2 separate regions of the Homo sapiens genome follow, and region 1 is linked to region 2. A link means that fine-mapping ties the variant in region 2 to the expression of a gene that starts in the linked region. Tissue or cell type: fibroblasts. Region 2 holds a variant in brackets; the other region holds the start of a gene. All regions are shown on one strand. Distances are from middle to middle.

What was found. PIP is the estimated chance that this variant, and not a neighbour inherited with it, causes the effect.
Region 1: PEX7 starts here. The variant in region 2 is fine-mapped to the expression of PEX7 in fibroblasts (GENCORD, PIP 0.95).

The regions. Positions count from the first base shown.
Region 1 is chr6:136,821,514-136,824,139 of GRCh38, reverse strand. PEX7 (peroxisomal biogenesis factor 7) reads right to left here and starts at 1,548. Exons shown (of 10, transcript NM_000288.4): 1 at 1,345-1,548. The coding sequence starts at 1,474. RefSeq lists enhancers at 938-1,097, 479-1,211, 1,212-1,944, 1,828-1,977 and a silencer at 1,268-1,647.
Region 2 is chr6:136,880,486-136,883,244 of GRCh38, reverse strand. All of the region lies in intron 8 of PEX7 (peroxisomal biogenesis factor 7), which reads right to left. Among named protein-coding and RNA genes, the nearest start is that of SLC35D3, 40 kb to the left of the region's middle. The variant G/AG (reference allele first, on the strand shown) is at 1,070.

The DNA of each region.
Region 1 (2,626 bases), 59 kb after region 2:
GTAAATCTGAATGTGCAAGCACTAAGAGCTAATAATGAAAATAAATCAAGTATTTCTCTGAGTTTTAGAAGTAACATTTTTTTCTGCTGTAGGACAAAACAAAAAAATACAATAGACCACTGACATTATGAAATGAGTTTTTGCATCTCGCTTCAGTGCGTATAATAGCTAGGACATGAATTAAGGCAAAAGCGAGAATGAACCTACGCCTTTTCATCTAGTCCACGGACTAGATGGACTCTTTTTTTTGAGACGGAGTTTTGCTCTTCTTGCCCAGGCTGGAGTGCAATGGCACGATCTCGGCTCACCGCAACCTCTGCCTCCTGGGTTCAAACTATTCTCTTACCTCAGCCTCCCGAGTAGCTGGGATTACAGGCATGCGCCACCACGCCCGGCTAATTTTGTATTTTCAGTAGAGATGGGGTTTCTCCATGTTGGTCAGGCTGGTCTGGAACTCCCGAACTCAAGTGATCCGCCCACCTCGGCCTCCCAAAGTGCTGGGATTACAGACGTGAGCCACCGCACGGCGCTTGGCCTTTTTTCTTTTTAAGACGGGGTCTCAGTCTGTCACCCAGGCTGGAGTGGAGTGATGTGATCTCAGCTCACTGGGCTGGGGCAGAGTGATGTGATCTCAGCTCATTGTAGCCTCAACATCCCGGGCTCAAGCGATCCTCCCGCCTCAGCCTCCTGAGCAGCTTTAACCACAGGCTGAGCCAATGCGCGCGACGGGAGACAATTAACTGGAGTCTGTAACACCTACTTGCGAATGTGTGCATTCCTCGTTAGACAACTACAGGTAAGAACTGAACTTGATATATTTCATGGTGTCACCCGTGGGACTCCAGGCGTCCATTCAGGAGCATCGTCCTTAGGAAGGCCAGCCCGCAGGTCGCAGCTCAGTGCTCGAATGCAGACTGGGAATTGTGGGCCAACTCGCGAGCCCTGGGTCGGTTCTGGCTCAGACCGTCTTCCCCGTACTGCTGTGCCGAGCGGACCGATCCAAGGGACCGCGCAGGCTCCCCCGGCTCTCCCTACGGGGACGTGTGCCTGGGCGTGTGACACGTGGCGGAGGCAGCGCGGTCTCAAGGAACAAGGACACGGGCTACTAGGCTACACGTATATGCACTTGCACACAACTGGAAGATCGACTCCTGCTTCAGACCAACTCCTCGCACTCGGCAAAGAAAGGAGAAGCGCCGACCAGCGCCTCTTCTGCCCCCTGGCGTGGACCCGCGGAACCGTCTACGCTCAGAGGGGCTTTCCCTCGAGCGCGAGGAACTGGAGCCCGGCTGGCCCCCGCCTCCGCCTCCGCCCCCCGGCCCCAGCTGCGCGGCGCCGCCTCACCCGCGATGCCGTAGTGCTGCGCGGTGGCGCAGGCCAGGCGGCCCGGCAGGTACGGGGAGAACTCGGCGGCGTAGCCGTGGCGTCCCGGCGTCCGCAGCATCCGCGCCGCTCCACCGCACACCGCACTCATCCCGCCCGCCGCCCCCGGCCCTCGCTGCCCCGGCCGCGGAAGCCGTTCCGAGTCGGAGGCACACTGGCGCGGTTAGAGAGACCAGGCAGACCGGACGGAAGTGTGGGCCCCGTGCCCTGTGTTTGAGATTCTGATTGGTCCGCACAGGAAAGGGCGTTGACTCCGACGGAGACCATTTTTGTTTTGGGTGAATCCAAACTGAATTGCGCCTGCTGCAAAGATACAGATCTATCAGGGGAGTGATCCAGGGTTAGGTATTATTAATAATTACGACAGCTTTTGTCGTTGCATCTCAGCCTCCTCTGCGGTGCTATCTGGTTTTTATTTCATTGAGCGTTTGGAAGACTGGCATCAGGAACTTTTCCTGATGATTATAAAGTGAGAAAAGTTACAGCCGACTCTGAAACCACGCAGCGCGTCCAAAATTGCGTGCTGCGTTGCCCAAGGAAACTGGAAGCAATGAGAACTTAAGTCCGTGGAGTCACTGCGGTCTTTAGGAATAAGAGCGTGGGCTGGTGGGCTACTTTCACACTGTAACTGGAAAAGATGAAACACCAACTCCAAACCAACTCCCCATGCTTGGCAAGTGAGAAAAAGGAGCTGGCCAGTTCTAATGAAGCTAAGCAAAAAAGCAGCACATCATCATATACAACTTTTTTAAAAAGTATTACTATACATGTATATATTGTATGGTAATAAGTGCTCAGATGCTGGTGCTCATTCATTCATTTATTGCCAGGCATATACTATGTGGAGAATGACCAAATATAATTTATCTGCCAAACCAAGATACTTTTGAGAGTAAAGAGGGTGTAATTATTAAGCCAGGTCAACAGGCACAAACCAAGTCGTATGATCATCTTAACCATATACCAAGAACAGTACTAGGCATTTGGGATTCAAAATAATGGGATATGGTCCATGGCCTCAAGAGATTAGAGAAGAAGACTAAAAGAGAAGTCATGTAATTAGTTAAGTGTAATCAAAATACTGTAGAGGCTATGATAAATTTATATGGGGTATTTTTAAAAGGTGATTGTCCGTGCCAGAGGTATGGAAATTGCAGGAAAGGCTGCAGAAGAGAGATAAGTCTTTATGGTGATTGCACACAGATGAGTAGGTTTTCTTTAGGTAGACAAGAAGATGGAGATC
Region 2 (2,759 bases):
ATTAAACTTAAAATAATTAAATTTAAAATTAATAAATTAACATTACTAATTGATAAACCTGGCACTCAGAAACATTTCATTCCACTCGGAAACAATTTCTAGGTTAGGGATGTTTCTTTTTTACTTCACATGAATTCCTTAGCAAGCATAATGATTGCCAAGAAGTCATAATCAATCATAAGTGACTTACTCAATCCAAATCACTTCAAAAGCAAAAGCCACAAATCTTTTCAAAATAATTAACCCTATTTAATCAGTGATGTAGATCCATTTTATAGGTTCTAGTGATCCAGGGTAAGACCTCCAACACAGAGTACGCTGGGACAGTGAAGACCTTAAAATGGCCCTGGTGAATGGAAGCTTATGCGGACACTAAAAGCTTGGCTAAGTAAAAAAGAGAGATGTAAGAGAGGAGTTAAAGGCAAATGCAGGATGAAGGAAAATGTTACAGGCTGAGGAAAAAGTCACTAAAGAGTTGGAGACTAAAGATATAGAGAGATATAGGGGGAGAACAGGTCACTTCACGGCGTAAAGTCCTGAAGAAAACAAGTACGAGGGATCAACAGCACACATGTCTAAGGGATCTAAATAACAGGAGGAATGAAGAGGTACAGATTTAGAGAAAATCTGCAGGCCCAGCTTAGAAATTAAGATAATTTGTGCTTGAGTCCCACAATTATTATTATTATTATTATTTTAAAGGTAAGATCTTTTGCTGAATGTGCAGGGAATAGGGTTGGAAAGATGGCTTTAGAAGAGAGGCAAAGGGCCAGGTGCGGGGGCTCACGCCTATAATCCCAGCACTTTGGGAGGCTGTGGTGGGCAGATCACTTGAGGTCAGGAGTTCGAGACCAGCCTGGCCAACATGGTAAAACCCTGTCTCTACTAAACATACAAAGATTAGCTGGGTGTGGTGATGTGTGCCTGTAGTCCCAGATAGTCAGGAGGCTAAGGTGGGAGAATCGCTTGAACCCTGGAGGTGGAGGTTACAATGAGCCAAGATCACACAACTGCACTGCAGCCTGGGTGACAGAGCAAGACTGTCTCAAAAAAAAAAAAAAAAAAAAAA[G/AG]AAGAAGAAGAGGGGGAAAAGCAATTAAGAATTATCATAGTATTTTCAAGAACGTCTTCTCATATATTTCTTGTAATCACCCTGTGAGCTTGTGAGCACAGATATCACTAGTTGCCATATTACACATTAATAAAAGAAACCTGGACTCTAAGTTATACACGATCATTGATTTCAAATATCTTCTTAACTTTCTGTTTAACTTACGTTAAAGATCTCCTATTATTGAACTATAAATCTCAATTTTTCCAAGTGCTTACAAATATAGCTACAACACCTTTGATCTGGTCTCAGGACCATGACCTAAGCCACCTCCCTCCCCAGGGGCACTAAATATCTATCCCCCGCTCCCTGTCCTTGCTCAGGACTCAGCATTTAACAGTGGAGAGAAAAGTAAGACTGAAAGCCAAAAACTATGATGATTCTGAGCATGGTTTGATACTCCCAAGATTTTCAGAAATGTAGTTGACATCCAGTCTTAACAAACATTCCTGAGAACAAGGCATTTTCCCACAGGGTGTTTAGGGGTACTTAAATACATAAAACAGGGAGTGGTCAGTCACTAGGATTAAGATCAAAATGACAATTCTGAGAAGAAAGTCTCAGTAGTCATTAGATTTTTCTCTTTAATCAGAAACAAAGCACTGAAATGGATTTAAGATGTCCCAATTAAAACTGTTAAGAATACCAAATATGAGATCACCAAAAGATTAATGTCTCATCTCAGTTTATGCCTTCTTGCTTCAAATGCCAGAAAGGTGTTCGAATTCCAAGAACTAGATCCTATATGTGGATATCTTTTTGAATCCATGAGCGACAAAAAGAGAAGATTCCAAGTTCTCTCTTCATACTGCTTAACCTATCTGGTGGATCTGACATTACTGGCCATTCACACCTTGTTGAAAGCCCCTCCTCCCACAGCTTCTGTGACTATTGCATGCTCTAAGGTTTCCTCCTGTTCCTGGTGGGCTGCTCCTTCCTGCTTTCCAACATGAACTCCCTCCTGAAGGAGGGAATTTTTGTTCTTTCTCTACACTTATCTCCCTTTGGCTTATTCATTCTTATGGACTGAATTATCAGTGAGTAAATGGTGTCCAAATCTACATGCACAGCCTTAACCTCCAGCCAGTGATCTAGCTCCACAGTTCCAGTTTCTTCCTTTCTGTTGTGTTGCCATTCGTTAGTTCCCAGGCTGAAAACTTTATAATCACTACTTATTATTTTATATGGAATACTAAAAAACAAACAAAAGCCTGGTTAAAGTACACTTTTGAGAGCTGGGAGCCTCCATGTGATTATTCTTCCCAGCTGTCTGCCCGCTTGTATTGAATGAATCAAGAAAACCAAGTTAAGGCATGAAATACATCTCAAAGCATTGTTGTAATTTATTCTATTAGAAGTACATTTTATACAAACAAAGCTATATAGACTGGGCCATATCTAATACGGACTCAGAAGTGAGGAGAGAGGAGAGTCTAGGCAATGAGGCCATGTAAATCCAAAACTGTTACTGTATTCTTACAAAAACCAATACAGAACAACAAAGAGAACAAATAAAACTACACAAACCTCAGGTCTTCCACACATCCAAACTTCAAATTAACTGTAAGAAGAAAAATCAAAACAGAATCCCTATGAGCTCTCTTCCTTGTTCCAGCTGCAAGCCTGTGTGAATGGCAAGGACAGTGTGGGG